Homo sapiens: one gene and its partners. The protein of the gene in region 2 interacts with the protein of the main gene of each other region in a pairwise test. Each region holds a gene or a part of one and is shown on either strand. Other genes may lie near its edges.

Region 1 (6,967 bases), on a different chromosome or scaffold from region 2:
TCTCGATCTCCTGACCTCTGGTGATCCACCTGCCTTGGCCTCCCAAAGTGCTGGGATTATAGATGTGAGCCACCATGCCTGGCCAGGAGATGAATTTTTAAATACTAATAATAATACACACAAATAATAAAATTACCACCACCACCACCACCACCACACACCCCGTTTCCTTCTCACTTATCTCTGTGCTTCTCACAACCTCACAAGGTGTGACATGAACCCCCACCCCAAGCCCACAGGCTGGTGCTGCCCTTGCGCCCAGGCTGGTGAATGTGCCCATCTCCCCGGCTCCTCCCCACTTCCTCTTTGTCCTTCCTCTTTCCCATCGTATTTTTAGAAATCTTTGAGCTTGCAGCCCTGCTTCCAGGACAGCTGGCCTCACTTCCCCTTTCCAGGGCAGGAGGAGGATGCCATCTCAGGGCCCTAAATAAAGAGGCCCCTCAAAGTCTCAGTAGGAGGGACCCTGGGGCAGAGGGGGTGTGGGTGGAGCTGCTCCCCGCCCCAGCCCCACAAGCCCCACAGGCTCTGCGGAGTGCGGCTTCCTCCCCCGCCGCCCCCCCACCGCCCCAGCCGAGCTGGCTCTATTTTTAACTGCGCTGCCTGTCTTCTCTGCACCAGCACAGTGCTTGTCTTTGGCCACACTGGGGCTTTGCTGTCTGGCCCTCTCACCTTCCCGGCAGGCCCTGGGGGAGGGCGCCTTACCTGCTTCCCGACACAGGCCCACCTCAGGAGAGGAGGGGAGGCAGCCCTGGGGGCCCCTGAGTCACCAGCCTGTCCATAATAAAGGTGAGAAAACTGAGGCCCATAGAAGGAAGAGACCATGACCACTGGCAGGGTGGTGCAGAGCTGGAACCTGAGCGAGGTCCGGCTAACTCCCAATCCCCGCTTCCCCAGGCCAGGCCAGGATGATGGCACCCACGTAGAGATGACAAATCAGAACTCAGAGAGGGGAAGTCACCGTGCCATGAAGAAGCCCCATTTAAGACCCAGTCTGGGCAACAGGGAAATGACCTTTTCTCCCTCCCTCTGGCCTCCTCCTCAAGGAGGTCTTCCCAGATCTCCTCTGCCCCAGTGGGAAAAGTTGCTTCCTCCCATCTGTAGGTCTGTGTCCATTTGCACAGCTGGGTCAGGGTCCTGCAGGATGTGGCTCCTGCCTCTCCACCCCACCCCCAACATTCCAGACCAACACCTGTCCCCCAGGGTTAGGCCCATGGCTGGGTCACTGCTGTCCCCAGCACTGCATAGCACACTGGAAGGTCGTTTGTAGAGTGAATGAATGAAAAGACCAACTACTCGATGGAGAACCCATTGACCCCATTTAATCCATTTCCTCCCTAGTACCGGCTGAAGCAAAGCAGAGACTCCCCTCCCCTGCCCTCTCCATAGCCCCGGCCAACCTGGGGCTCTCTCCCGCAGGTTCTCGTCCCTGCTCTGCTGCTGACTGGCCGTGTGACCTCAAGCAAGTCAGTCCCCGTCTCTAGTTCACCTCTGGGAGCCTCAGTTTCCTTATCTGCAACATGGAGACAGCCATCCCTGTAACCTCAGTATGTTAGGACCCGAAAGGACAAAGCGCCCTGCTGGACACACAGGCAGGGGGGTTGCATCTCGGTGGGTGCCCTCCCCCCCTCATCCCACCCTCATGTCTGCTGAGAGGCCTGAGCCAGGTGCTGCCCTTCGCTGGGTCTCCCTGTGCCAACCAGGTGCCCCCAAGCTGTGCTCACTGAGCTGTGATTTTGGGAGCCCCCAAAGCCCATGGGAGAGGCAGGGGTCAGAGTGAGCCCTGGATAGGGATTCAGGGAACAGGATTTGGTCCTGCTCCTGCCTTAGAGAGGCTGTTTTCCTCCCTTGGCCTCTTTTCTCCCTTCTGCCACTGGGGGGGCTGTTGAAATGGATCAGTGGTTCTCTGGGTTCCCTGGGGCCCGAGGCTTCCATCTGGGGGTGGGGAGGAAGGGGGATGCCCAGTGGGCGGGGCCAGGCTGCTCCACATTAGGTGCGTTTGAAGCAAGGGTGCTCCTGGACAAGGCTGAGGTCATCTGGACCTGGGGAGCAGACAGCTCCCACGAGCCCTTAGGTTCTGGAATTCCAGCAGCCGTGTTCACCAGAACTGTTGCAGCTCTGGAGCATGCTGACATCCAGGGTGCAGAAACTTGGCCCCTCTACCGGGCCTTCAATTTGCCTCCCAAAACACGACCCTGATGTTCTTTTCCTCACCATCTTTGCAGCCTCCTTTCTCCTCTTTCTCCCCAGACACATTGTCTTAGTAGCTGGGGAGGGTTTCAACCAGAGCCTCTGTTGCTCACTCCTGGCCCTCCCCTGGCTCTAGGCAGCGTCCTCAGCCTCCCCAAAGACCACCCCAACCCCCGGGGGCCAAAAAGGGGCCTCAAGGCCCTTGTATCACCCAGACAAGCATCGCCATCACCAACATCCCATCATCATCTTAATCGCAAGTCACTTTTCTGAGTCCACCTCTGAGCCTTTGGACTGGCTGTTCCTTCTGGCTGGAATGTTTGTTCCTTAGAAAGCCCCTTAGCTGACATCTTCCTCAGGTCCCTCATCAGACAGCATCTCCTCTTGGGGCCTTTTCCACCATGCATTCCTGTCTTCCTTACCCTGCTTTACTGTTCTTCATCCTACCTGCCATCAACTGACATATGGAATCACATTAGAGTCACTGCCGGTCTCCTCATCTAGAGCACAAGCCTATGAAGGGGGAAACAGCGTCTGCTTTGCTACTGCTGTGTGTCCAGCCCCTAGAACGCAACTGGACACACAGGCTGAGCCCACAAATGTTTGCTTCTTGCAGCTGCATTTCCCACCTGCGCTGTATTCCTTTATCTAGGACCCTGTGAGGCAGGGGCTGCTGTCCCATTCTAAAAGAGAGCACCCTGAGGCCCAGAGAGGTTGACGGCAGTTGCTTACCTGGGTGGCACAGGTCCATTCCGACGCCTCTGGGGAAAAGATGACCCGTGCTCCTGTCGCTTGCCGACCCAGCTGCTGTTCGGGCTGGCCCGGCAAGGATGCGTCACCTTGACTGTAACAGGCTCCTTCCTGCTTGCCCCGCCCAGCCCTGTGTGGGGAGGAAGTCAGTCCTGGCCCACGGGGGTCTCGTGTGCAGGCTTTTGACAAAACAGCACTTCCTAAAAACTGGCAGAGTTTTGAGCAGCAGGGACTTTTGCCAGGGAGGGACAGAGGTGGAAACAAACAAACAAACAAACAAACAAACAGATGAAGTGAGGGGAGGGCCAGATAAAAAAGAGAAAGACAGTGAGACAGAAAGAAACACACAGACACATATGCACATACACACGTACACATGCACAGACACCGAGGGCGATGTTCACTGAGGACGAACATTTTCCAGGGGACCATGGGCATTCACGTGGCAGCCTCCTCACATATATGCCATAGGAGCGCCCAACTTGGACAGTCCTAGCAGGGCCCCCTGTGTTCCACCCCACAAGCTCTCTTCCAACTCCCACTTGAGAAGAGACAAATGAATTCACTGCTAGGAAGGGCTTTGCTTCCCTTCAAAGAAATATCTGGCTTTTTCTTGTCTAGTGAACAATCGGGTAATATGTTCCACTTTCCTTCTCCCCCAGGCTGCTGGGAAACTCATCGTCAAATCCAAAGCTCATCGACAGCTATTCTATGATGTCATGTGAACTTTGGGGCCTGACTCAGCTGTTTGACTCTCAGCTAGGGCTAGTCAGCCTCGCTTTGCTTATCTCTGAAAGGGGAATAACACTAACTCGGGGATATGGAAACCATGGAGTGAGAGGATGTGTCGGAGATGCTTGGGACATAGTAGGTGCTCAATAAACACTTTCTCCTTTGATTTTAATTATCTTCTTTGGTTAAAATGTATCATGTTATTCCTTGTGCCTTTTCTGGCAGGTTGGTTCAAATCCTTTCTGCAAAAAGCTTTGCTGTAAAGAAACAGGTATAAATTAAATGTGAATTCCCTATAACTTCAGGACACATGCAGAGTTATTCATCTGTTTCCCCATTACTCTCCAGGCCCCATGAGGGCAAGGTTACCTTTTGTGTTCTGGTGTGTGGTAAAATGCTGGGGACATAGAGGGTGTGCAAGTGTGGAATGAATGAACAAATGAATGAATGAATGAATGAATGAAGGGAACATGGAAGAGATCACGGCCGATGTGAAAGCTAGCTACAAGTTCACCTCCTTTTCACTATGCCGCCGCTTCTGCTGTCAAGGGGCGAAGTCCATTTCTCCTTCCTTGGAAGCTGAGCTGGCCTTGGGCATCTCTTTGACCAATAGCACGTGGCAGAAATGATGTGCCGTGATGTTCGAGGCTGAGCTTTAAAAGGCCTTGCAGCTCCTGCTCTTGCTCTCAGCCCCCTGCCTGGCTACCATGAGAACAAGCCTGGGCTAGCCTGTTGGAAGACGGAGGACCACAAGGAGATAGGCTGGGCTGTCTTGGCTGTCCCCTGGTTGCTGCCTCATCAGTGAGGCCAGGGGACACCAGAAGAAGAACCATCAAGCGGAGTCCCACCCAAACTGCTGACCCATAGCACTGTGGGAAATAATACATTTTTGTGGTTTAAGCCACCAACTTCTGGGATGCTTTGTTATGCAGCCAAAGCTTGCTGATACAGAAGAAATCCAATGCTGTCATTTCCTCGGAGAGAAAACTGAGGCTTATTTCTGGGAAACACTTGACCAAGTTGGAACTTGAGTGAGTGCCAATTCAGGCCCAGAAGCCAGGCCTACTAAGTCCCCGTCTAGTGTGCTCAGGATTTTTGAACCCCGCTGCTTCTCCCCTGCCCTGCCTCCACCTGGGTTCTTGTATAACTCATGGTTCTTTTCTGGAAAACTTGTTACAATTATTTCCATGGTAAACTAGATTTTTCTCAACTGCTTTGGGCCTGAGGCACCACAAACCATGCCCTTGGCCATTTTAAAACTAGAAATGTGGGCTGGGCATAGTGGCTCATGCCTGTAATCCCAGCACTTTGGGAGGCCGAGGCGGGTGGATCACAAGGTCAGGAGATCAAGACCATCCTGGCCAACGTGGTGAAACCCCGTCTATACTAAAAATACAAAAATTAGCTGGGCATGGTGGCGGGTGCCTATAATGCCAGCTACTTGGGAGGCTGAAGCGGGAGAATCACTTGAACCAGAGAGTCGGAGGTTGCAGTGAGCTGAGATCGCGCCACTGCACTCCAGCCTGGCAACAGAGTGAGACTCCGTCTCCAAAAACAAAACAAAAGAAAAAACAAAACAAACAAAATAACCCCTAGAAATATGGAGAAAGGTATATATAATTCCCTGTGCAGAAAGACTTCACACTGCAGGCCGGAGACTGCTATCTTTAGAAAGTCATGCTTGCAAAGTTGACCCTTGGCTGGCACCTGGGAGCTTGGATTTGGGGAGGGCTCCCACCACCCTAACTGATGAGAGTGGCTTACTGGGCCTAACCTATTTGCCTAGCGTCCCTGGCAGCATCCCATCTCACAGGTGCTTTCACGACTTGTTGCTGGAGGAATTGAGCGTGTCCCGTGTGACTCTTTTGGGAGCAGACTCTTGGAAGCTGCCCCTGGTTTCCTCTGGACTTCGCCACGGCGCCTTTGCGGATTCTGCTTTGAGTCCTTTCACTGCCATAGATCATAGCCGTAAGTATGACCATGAGCTGAGTCCTGGGAGTCCACCTAGTAAACCACTGAACCTGGGATGGCCTTGGGGAAGGCTGCCTGATCTTGCGGCTGATCCAGTAAATGTGTCTTGACCAGGCCACGGTTTGGCATCTGACACTTCCCTTTTGTCTGATGGATGGTCACGGTTGTGTGGTTCAGCTATTGTTACTGTCTTATTCTCTAAGACATACCTCAAATACCACCTCCTCTGTGAGGTCCGTTGTGATGACACCTCCCCTCCCTCTTTCCCACAACGCTGGTCATGTTTAACGGCTTATATGCAGACAGCCTGGGAGGGAGGGACTCTTTCACTGTGAGCAGCAAAGAGTTTAGCAGAACTGACTTCATCATTTTCTCCGTCACTCCTTGTCCAGGTTTGGCTGCAAGATTTGCTGGGAACCAATAGCACAGGCAATGAGGAGAGCAGGAAGCTGGACCCAGGGGAGTCACAGAGAACTGGATTTGAATCCTGACTCAGCTCTTGTGAGCTGTGTGATCTTCTTCCTTCCCCTCCGAGCCTCATTTTTAATCATTTAAAATCATCTACAAAATGGAGACAGTTCAGGTTAGGTTTGCCTACATGAAACAGAAAACCCAAATAATAATAATGGTTTAAAGAAACTAGAGGTTTATTGATCTCTTACAAGAAAGAAACCTGAAGTGGGCAACACATGGCTGCCCTGTAGCAGCCTGGGCATGGATCCAGGATCCTTCTAACTTTCGGCTGCTGTCCTCAAATTCTCTTCATGGTCCAAAGTGGCTGCTTGATCTCCAGCTATCATGTCTAAATTCCAGGTAGGAGGAAGGATGAAAACGGGAAGGAATCCCCTTAAAACTTTCTGGCCTGAGATCAGTCCTTCTGCGCTACATCAGGCTCTGGTTCCCACCTGTGTACCAGGCAGGGGATCCGCAGTTGGTTCTGGGACAACAAATGAGAGTCTCCAAACACGAGATCTGGGAGGTCCTAAAAAAACCATCACTGCTATTTCTGGAGTGCCTGCTATGGAGTGCCAGACACTGTGCTAAGTGCTTGTCATCTCATTTAACCCTTTCCACCATTCAACAAATTACATTATTACAACCCCTCTTTCATAGATGAGGGAACTGAGTTCAGAGAGGTTAAATCACTTGCCCAAGGTCACGCAGCCAGGAGAAAGCAAAGTTCAGATTCAAGCCCTGAACTGTCTGACTTCAGATCCCCACACTCAGCTTGTACAAGCGTCACTTTAAACATTTCAGAAGTTCACCGACCTGCCCTCCCCACTCCCTGCACTTCCTTTGAGGGAGAGATAGGAAGGGTCTAGCATCT
Region 2 (2,810 bases):
TGAAAATGTGGAAATTAAAGCTCAAATAACTTGCTCAAATTCTTGTTAATTGGTAAGTAGTGAGGCAAAGACTCAAAATATTTGGTTGACTCTAAAATGAATGCCTTTGACCACCATAATATATAACTGTTTCTTATTATTCACGGATTCCATATTTGTGAATTTGCCTACTTGCTAAAATGTGTATCCACCAAATCAATACTTGTAGCACTTTTATGGTAATTCTCAGACATGCACGGAGAGGTGAAAATTTGAGTTGTGTGAAGTTGAGTCCCCAGCCAAGGAGCCTTCTTGTTTCAGCTCTCAGGCTAGAAAATAGTGTCCATTGCGCAGTCTATCTAGTGCCACTTTTTTTGTTTTGCCTTCTTGTGCATTTTGTTGGTGATTTTGCTGTTAAAAATGGCTTCTGTACCATTCCAAGTCAAGTGCTGTCTAGTATTCCCAATCACAAGAAGGCTATGCTGTGCCACATGGAGAAAACACATGTGTTAGAGAAGTTTTGTTTGGGCATGCGTGACAGTGCTGCTGACGTGAATTTGATGTTAATGAATCAACAATACGCACTAAATGAGGTTATGTATTGCTTGGTTGACAAAACTGTGACCACAGGCTCACAGGAACATAGCCCTCTATTTCCTGTAGGAGCAATGGTTCTATATTTGCTAATTCAGTATTGGAACTGACTTCATAGAACAGAACTCACTGGAATGACAAGGATAGGCCACATTTCCTTGTGAGGACCCCAAGAAGCAAAAGCGCCCACTGTGGCCAGGCCAGACAATCAGACGGGGCTTATTTGGGGATGTCCTGGCCCCTTTGTCAGCCAGCCCCAAGTGTGTCAGTCCCATCGTTAACGCTGGGCTTTCCCATTCTCTCCCGCAGAGGGGCACAGCCGAACCCTTCCCGAGGCTCCACAACTTGTACAGCACCCCTCGCTGCGCGCAGCAGGCCGCCCTGCCCCGGCTGAGCCGCAGGATGGCGAGCCAGCACTCCTATCCACTGAACCGCTTCTCCTCCGTGCCTTTAGACCCCATGGAGCGCCCCATGTCCCAGGCCGACCTGGAGCTGGACTACAACCCGCCGCGGGTGCAGCTCAGCGACGAGATGTTCGTGTTCCAGGACGGGCGCTGGGTAAATGAGAACTGCCGCCTGCAGTCTCCCTACTTCTCCCCATCCGCCTCCTTCCACCACAAGCTGCACCACAAGAGGCTGGCCAAGGAGTGCATGCTGCAGGAGGAGAACAAGTCTCTGCGGGAGGAGAACAAGGCCCTGCGCGAGGAGAACCGGATGCTCAGCAAGGAGAACAAGATCCTACAGGTCTTCTGGGAGGAGCACAAGGCCTCGCTGGGCCGAGAGGAGAGCCGGGCCCCCTCGCCACTGCTGCACAAAGACAGCGCGTCCCTGGAGGTGGTGAAGAAGGACCACGTCGCCCTGCAGGTGCCCCGTGGCAAGGAGGACAGCACCCTGCAGCTCCTCCGGGAGGAGAATCGCGCGCTGCAGCAGCTGCTGGAGCAGAAACAGGCCTACTGGGCGCAGGCAGAGGACACGGCCGCCCCTGCCGAGGAAAGCAAGCCCGCCCCCTCACCCCACGAGGAGCCCTGCAGCCCCGGGCTGCTGCAGGACCAGGGCTCCGGCCTCTCCTCCCGCTTCGAGGAGCCCAAAGGGCCTCCGGCCCGGCAGGAGGACTCCAAGGAGCTGCGCGCCCTGCGGAAGATGGTCAGCAACATGTCCGGGCCCTCCGGGGAGGAGGAGGCCAAGGTGGGCCCGGGCCTGCCCGACGGCTGCCAGCCCCTGCAGCTGCTGAGAGAGATGAGGCAGGCGCTGCAGGCCCTGCTCAAGGAGAACCGGCTCCTGCAGGAGGAGAACAGGACCCTGCAGGTGCTACGGGCAGAGCACAGGGGCTTCCAGGAGGAGAACAAGGCCCTGTGGGAGAACAACAAGCTGAAGCTGCAGCAGAAGCTGGTCATTGACACCGTGACCGAGGTCACCGCGCGCATGGAAATGCTCATCGAGGAGCTCTACGCCTTCATGCCGGCCAGGAGCCAGGACCCCAAGAAGCCTAGCAGGGTCTGAGGCCTCGGCCTTGCACCGGGACGCCGAGTTTGGGACACCGAACACTGGGCAAAAGAGAATCCCCTGCCTTCCTTTGTCGTCCTCGCCTTCCCCAGCCAGTTCGTACCTATTGAAAAGCAGCGTTAGCAGCCTTCCTAAACTCAGAGTTTTAATAAAGGTGTGAGGAGGCTGGGGCCAGTTGACACCAGCATGCTGCCTTTTTCTTTCTTTCTTTCTTTCTTTCTTTTAATAAAAGATAGACAATATTTTAGAGCAGTTTTGGGTTCACAGCTAAACTGAGCAGAAAGTACAGGGAGTTCCCATAGACTCCCGTCCCACAAATGCATAATCTCCCGCATTATCACCATCCCTCCAGAGAGGTACACTAGTGACAGTCTTTGAACCTACATTGACACATAATTATTCCAAAGTCCGTAAGTTTGTATTAGGGTTTGCTGCTGGTGTTGTACATTCTGTGGGTTTGATCAAATGCATAGTGACATGTAGCCACCATTGTAGTACCATATAGAGTATTATAGAGTATATGTAGTACCATATAGAGTATTTTCATTGCGCTAAAAATCCTCTGTGCTCTGCCTGTTCATCCCTCCCTCCCCCTCCAGCCTCTGGCCACCACTGATCTTTTTTACAGTCTTCATAGTTTTGCTTTTTTCAGAATGTCATATAGTTGGAATCGCCAAGTGTGGAGCCTTTTCAGGTTGGCTTCTTTCACTTGGATATGCATTTAAGTTTCCTCC
Region 3 (7,070 bases), on a different chromosome or scaffold from region 2:
TGGCTCACACCTGTAAACCCAGCACTTTGGGAGGCCGAGGCAGGTGAATCACTTGAGGCCAGGAATTCAAGACCAGCCTGGCCAAATGGTGAAATCTTGTCTGTACTAAAAATAGAAAAATTAGCCGGGCGAGGTGTCAGGCACCTGTAATCCCAGCTACTCAGGAGGCTGAGGTGAGAGAATCACTTGAACTTGGGAGGCAGAAGTTGTGGTGAGCCAAGATCGTGCCACTGCACTCCAGCCTGGGTGACAGAGTGAGACTCTATCTCAAAAAAAAAAAGAAAAGAAAAGAAAAAAGAAATTTGGAAGGTTTGTAAAAATTTATGGAGTAAATAAGAGAGTAAATGTAAACGCTTATACTCATTTTTTAATTACAGAGTTTAGAATAAATATTTTATCGCTTGACGGTCTGGCTCCAGCTGTCAGTGAGAACTCCGATTTGGAACAGGAAGTAAGTACAACAAAGTCATTTTTCATGGTCGATTGTTTTTGGCTTCAACATTTTTTTTTTTAAATTTTTAAAAAATTTAAAAATTGAGGCAGGGTCTCACTATGTTGCCCAGGCCGTCCTCAAACTGGGCTCAAGCAATCCTCCCGATTCAGCCTCCCAAAGTGCTGGGATTACAGGTGTGAGCGACCATGCCTGGCCCAATGTCGATTCTTATGTGGAAAAGCAAGTAATGTTTCATTTAGGCCTATAGTTTTCAAATCTGCCCCCCAGGGGACATTGGCAATGTCTGGTGACATTTTGGCTGTCATGACTAGGGGGTGGGTGACAGATGCCACTGGCATTGTGAGTGGGTGGAGGCCAGGAACACTGCTCCATATTGTGTAATGCACCGGGTGGCCCCCAGCTGCCAAGAATGTTGTGGCCTCTGATGTCAAGAGTGCAGTAGGTGAGAGACCCTGATTTAGGTGCTAACAGGATGAAGCTACCTTGGTTAGCTGGTGATTAAAGCACATCCCACGTAAAGCCGCCCATGACAACATCTGCACGGAGGCAACACTTCACCAGCCGTATCCAGTCACACTCCCTGTTGTGATTTTTGTCCTGGTGGCCACCGGCACTGTCAGATACACGTGTTGGTTATACACAGTGATGACATTTTATTTTTATTTTAAAATATTTATTGTTTTTATTTTATTATTATTATTATTTTTTATTTTAAACTTTTTTTTTTTTTTTGAGAGAAGTCTTGTTCTTATCCCCCAGGTTTGAGTGCAATGGCTCGATCTCGGCTCACTGCAACCTCCACCTCCCGGGTTCAAACGATTCTCCTGCCTCTGCCTCCCAAGTAGCTGGGATTAAGTCCCCTGCCACCATGCCCAGCTAATTTTTGTATATTTTAGTAGAGACGGGGTTTCACCATGTTGGCCAGGCTGGTTTCGAACTCCTGACTGCAAGTGATCCACCTGCCTTGGCCCCCCAAAGTGCTGGGATTACAGGCATGAGCCACTGCGCCTGGCCTATTATTATTATTATTATTATTATTATTTTGAGACAGAGTCTCGCTCTGCTGCCCAGGCTGGAGTGCAGTGGTGTGATCTCAGCTCACTGCAAGCTCCGCCTCCTGGGTTCACACCATTCTCCTGCCTCAGCCTCCCGAGCAGCTGGGACTATAGGCGCCCACCACCAGGCCCGGATAATTTTTTTTGTATTTTTAGTAGAGATGGGGTTTCACCGTGTTAGCCAGGATAGTCTCGATCTCCTGACCTCGTGATCCGCCCGCCTCGGCCTCCCAGAGTGCTGGGATTACAGGCGTGAGCCACCACGCCCGGCCTTAATTATTATTTTTTTGAGACACAGTCTCGCTCTGTCGCCCAGGCTGGGACTACAGTGGCACAATCTCAGCTCACTGCAACCTCCACCTCCTGGTTTCAAGCAATTCTTGTGCCTCAGCCTCCTGAGTAGCTGGGATTACAGGCACCCGCCACCCTACCCCACTAATTTTTGTATTTTTAGTAGAGATAGTTTCACCATGTTGGCCAGGCTGGTCTCCAACTCCTGACCTCAGGTGATTCACCCACCTTGGCCTCTCAAAGTGCTGGGATTACAGGCATGCGCCACCATGCCTGGCCCAATTTATTTATTTTTGAGACAGGTCTCACTCAGGCTGGAATGCAGTTGGGGGATCATGGCTCACTTCATCCTCGATGTCCTAGGCTCAAGCAATCCTGCCCAGCCTCCTGAGTAGCTGAGACTACAAGCGTGCACCCATGCCTGGCTAATTTTTTATTTTTTTGTAGAGATATGGACCGGCTGGGTTGTCCAGGCTGGTCTTGAACTCCCAGCTTCAAGCAATCCTCCTGCCTCGGCCTTTCAAAGTGCCGAGATTACAGGTGTGAGCCATTGCCCCCAGGCATGATGAAACTTAATTTTTAAAATATTTTTTTTCTTACAGAGGTAGGGTCTTGCTATGTCTCCCAGGCAGGTCTTGAACTCCTGAGCTCAAAGGATCCTGCCGCCTCAGCCACCTAACATTTCATCAGTCCATGATGAAATGTTTTTTTTTTGAGACAGAGTTTTGCTCTTGTTGCCCAGGCCGGAGTGCAATGGTGTGATCTCAGCTCACCATAACCTCTGCCTCCTGGGTTCAAGTGATTCTCCTGCCTTAGCCTGCTGAGTAGCTGGGATTACAGATACGTGCCACCATGTCTGGCTAATTTTGTATTTTTGGTAGAGACGGGGTTTCTCCATGTTGGTCAGGCTGGTTTCAAACTCCCAACCTCAGGTGATCTGCCCGCCTTGGCCTCCCAAAGTGCTGGGATTATAGGCATGAGCCACTGTGCCCGGCTGAAAATTTTTTAATTTTTTTTTTCTTATAGAGGTAGGGTCTTGCTGTGTTGCCCAGGCAGGTCTTGAACTCCTGAGCTCAAAGGATCCTACCGCCTCAACCACCTAAAGTCCTTAAGTCCATGATGAAATGTTAAATGCCATCCACGTGCCACCTAAGCATGCGTCACACCATCAGGATTCCTGCAGCCCCGTGGACATGCCGTACTGAAGACGCCACAGTTCTGTTTAGAATACTCCGTGCCCACATCTAATGAGGACCTGGTGTGTCCCCTTGTCTGCGGGAGTGCTGCAGGTCCCCAGCTCCTAGGAGTGCAGTGTTCCTAGCATGTTGATATTTCCAAAACACTTCCCAGCCACCTCTGCCATTCTTCATTTTAGGAGGAAAGTGCTCAGAGACAAAAAACAGCTGGCAAAATCTTCAGAGCCGAGGCGTCCACTGGGCAGGATGCCCCGAGGCAGGCCCAGGCGAGGAGCTGGGCATCACAGGGAAAGGCCGCCTCTGCAGAGGGGGATGAGAGCGAGGTCTCGGAGCATCTCAGTGCCAGCTCGGCTTCTGCCATCCAGCAGGACAGCACTTCCAGCATGCAGCCACCATCTGAAGCCCCCATGGTGAACACAGTCAGCTCAGCTTATTCGGAGGATTTTGAAAACTCTCCAAGTCTGACAGCATCTGAGCCAACCGCCCATTCCAAGGAGTCTCTTGACAGAACACTGGACGCTTTGTCTGAATCCTCTTCAAGTGTGAAGACAGACCTTCCACAAACAGCCGAGTCTAGGAAAAAGTCGGGCAGGCACGTGACAAGAGTGCTTGTGAAGGACACAGCTGTGCAGACGCCAGATCCTGCCTTCACCTACGAGTGGACCAAGGGTAAGCCTTGGGGCCCGTGGGGGCCGGGGCAGCCGGGACAGGAGCTCAGCGTGTGGTTTACAGCATCCTGGGAGACACGTGGGAGAGCTCAGGTTCCTGAGATTTGGGCTCTTGTTATTAATCACCTGGAGGGGTTGGCCAAGCAAGGTGGCTCACGCCTGTAATCCCAGCACTTTGGGAGGCCGAGGCGGGAGGATCACTTGAGGTCAGGAGTTCAAGACCAGTCTGGCCAACACAGGGAACCCTCATCTCTACTAAAAATACAAAAATTAGCTGGCTGTGGTGGTGTGTTCCTGTAATCCCAGCTACTCAGGAAGCTGAGGCTTGAGAAGAACCCGGGAGGTGGAGGTTGCAGTGAGCTGAGATGATGCCCCTGCACTCCAGCCTGGGTGACAGAATGAGACTCTGTCTCAAAAAAAATAAAAGTCACCTAGGGACCTTGGCTCACCATTTCCTCTTCCATGGACGAGGGACAGCCGCCCTCGTGTGTCCCGATGTCTTCCTAGCCCTGAAGCATTCAGAAGGATCAGAACCAAGGACTAGGGTAGCACCTCCCACAGGATGATTCACGGGGGGACTCCAGCAAGGTCTGGAGACATTATTAGTTGTCACAACTCAGGGTGGGGAATGCTATCGGCATCTGCTGGGTGGAGGCCAGGGGTGCTATTCCACACCCCGCAGTGCACAGGATGCCTTTGTCCTGGAGAATGAACACCCTGGGTGACTTTCCAGATATTTCTCTCTCTCTCTCTCACTCTGTTTTTAGAGATGGGGTCTTGCTATGTTGCCCAAGCTGGAGTACAGTGACCCAATCATAGCTCACTGCAGCCTCAACCTCCCTAGGCTCAGGTGATCCTCCTACCTCAGCCTCCTGAGTAGTAGGATTACAAGCATGCGCCCCCATGCCTGGCTAATTTTTATATTTTTTGTAGAGACAGGGTCTTGCCATATTGCCCAGCCTGGTCTCAAACTCGTGGGCTCAAGCAATCTGTCAGCCTTAGCCTCCCAAAGTGTTGGGATTACAGGCGTGAGCCACTGCACCCGGCCCTGTATCTTTTTTTTTTTTGAGATGGAGTCTCACTCTCTTGCCCAGGCTGGAGTGTAGTGGTGCGATCTTGGCTTACTGCAACCTCCACCTCCTGGGTTCAAGCGATTCTCCTGCCTCAGCCTCCTGAATAGCTGGGATTACAGGTATGTGCCACCACGCCCAGATAATTTTTGTATTTTTAGTAGAGATGGGGTTTCACCATGCTGGCCAGGCTGGTCTCAAATTCCTGACCTCGTGATCTGCCTGCCTCGGCCTCTCAAAGTGCTGGGATTATAGGTGTGAGCCACCGCACCTGGCCCCCTGTATAATTTTAAAATGTTCTTTGTAGAGACAGGGTCTCCCTATGTTCCCCAGCCTGGTCTTGAACTCCTGGGCTCAAGTGATCCTTCCACCTGCTCATGTTGGCCCCCCAAGGTGCTGGGACTACAGGCATGAGCCACCATGCCTGGCCTTCGGGCATTTCTCTCATTCCCAGCTTCAGTCTCGGCTCTTGCTGGTGGAAAGGCCCCATTCTTTTAAACATTCCCATGTTATTATTTTATTTTATATAATTTTATTTTATGAGATGGGGTCTCGCTCTGTTGCCCAGGCTGGAGTGCGGTGGCACAATCTCGGCCCACTGCCTCCTCCACCTCCTGGGTTTCAGCGATTCTCCCACCTCAGCCTCCCCAATAGCTGGGACTAGAGGCGCCTGGCTAATAAACATTCCCTTTTAATATCTCTTTTCTCATCCATATGGCTCTTGACAAGGTAGACTGGATGTGAAAAATGATGTAGTTCCCAGCCTGGCCAATATGGTGAAACCCCGTCTCTACTAAAAATACAAAAATTAGCCTGGTGTGGTGGCACGCATCTGTAGTCCTAGCTACTCGGGAGGCCGAGGCACAAGAATCGCTTGAAACCAGAAGGTGGAGGTTGCAGTGAGCTGAGATCGTGCCATAGCACCCCAGCCTGGGCGACAGAGTGAGACTCTGTCTCAAAAAAAAAAAAAAAAAAAAAAAAAGGCAATGTAATTCTCACTGGATCTATTTGTTTTGATTTGGGGGCTTAACCTAACATCAGCCTGACGGGCCCCCCAGGAGAGGGTGAGTGGTGTCTGTTTCTCAGGAGGGAAAGTCAATCACATGGACTGAGTCAAATCACCTTGGAGGTGTTAAATGGTATTTTCAACCTGGGATCTGGGCTCAGAATTGTTTGTGTCTCTCTGCACTTCTGTCCATATTTTTGGCAATTTAGGGATGCTTTCATGAAACACTGGCGAGGCTGTTTTCCTAGACTAGGACTGACAGGGAAAGGAGAAAGAAAAAACAGCAGCCATAAACACGCTGGCCTCAGAGCCCAGAGAACACGCAACATCCTGAGGTCAACAGTGACCCTTAGAAGAAGGGCTGGGAAAGCACATCCTCCACTGCTCTCGACTGCAGCCACCGTGAGCCGGAGCCACCGCTGCACCCAGCTAGGATACCCGTGCCTTGAGCCAAGAAAACCTAGCAGAAAAATGGAGGCAGCCTTGGGAAATACTTGAAAGGGGAAGAGGGTAAAAAAAAGTAAAGAAGGGCCGGGTGCGGTGGCTTACACCTCAGCACTTTCAGAGGCTGAGGCAGGAGGATTGCTTGAGCCTAGGAGTTCAAGACCAGCCTGGGCAACATAGGGAGACCCTGTCTCTACAAAAAATTTTAAAAATTAGCCAGGCGTGGTGGCGCACCTGTAGTCCCAGCTACTTGGGAGACAGATGGGAGGATTACGTGAGCCCAGGAGGCTGTAGTGAGCTGTGATCATGCCGTGCACTCCAGACTGGGCAATAGAGCAAGACCCTGTCTCAAACCAAAAAAAAAAAAAAAAAATGCAAGAGTGGCGATCACCTTCAGAAAGAGGGAAGAACAAGGTCACGTAGTTTATTCCAGGGTCGTATCTGTGGACCCGAAAGTCATTTCTCTGCGTCCTGCCTGCTTACCCCTCTCTTTGTCCCCGAGATAGTGGCCAGCATGGCAGCCATGGGGCCTGCCCTGGGAGGCGCCTACGTGGACCCGACACCCATCGCCAATCATGTTATCAGTGCAGATGCAATAGAAGGTAACAGCCCGGCTCGGGGGATCCTTCCTGTCACATTTTACAGGACTCATTTCACCTGCAGATTCACACCCACTCTGGAGGTGTGGCACCCCTTGCATGCTGGCTTCCAGGGGTCCATTGGGCAGGGATTATTGCAGCCACAGGCACCTGCCATGAGGAGAGAAAAGGTGTGGATGCCCTTGAACCTTCTGTCTCTTGCAAAGAGACACCAATGTCACACAAAACAAGAGGGTGAAGAGTGATGCTTCTGTGCCCTGCACCCCAACAAGGCCACTTTTTTTGTT

The links. Proteins that work in one complex are often made in the same cells at the same time.
Region 1: the proteins of CBY2 (region 2) and CYTH4 interact in binary tests that used the Homo sapiens proteins (3 or more experiments, as listed by UniProt).
Region 3: the proteins of CBY2 (region 2) and C19orf44 interact in binary tests that used the Homo sapiens proteins (3 or more experiments, as listed by UniProt).

Annotation. Positions count from the first base shown.
Region 1 is NC_000022.11:37,278,541-37,285,507, reverse strand, and holds the start of CYTH4 (cytohesin-4), read right to left. Parts: upstream 3,001-6,967; 5' UTR 2,939-3,000; coding exon 2,920-2,938; intron 1-2,919. UniProt on the Homo sapiens protein: Promotes guanine-nucleotide exchange on ARF1 and ARF5. Promotes the activation of ARF factors through replacement of GDP with GTP.
Region 2 is NC_000013.11:45,712,300-45,715,109, forward strand, and holds the end of CBY2 (protein chibby homolog 2), read left to right. Parts: intron 1-882; coding exon 883-2,073; 3' UTR 2,074-2,260; downstream 2,261-2,810.
Region 3 is NC_000019.10:16,506,324-16,513,393, forward strand, and holds part of C19orf44 (uncharacterized protein C19orf44), read left to right. Parts: intron 1-377; coding exon 378-451; intron 452-3,175; coding exon 3,176-3,665; intron 3,666-4,758; coding exon of another isoform or gene 4,759-4,844; exon of another isoform or gene 4,845-6,683; intron 6,684-6,690; coding exon 6,691-6,786; intron 6,787-7,070.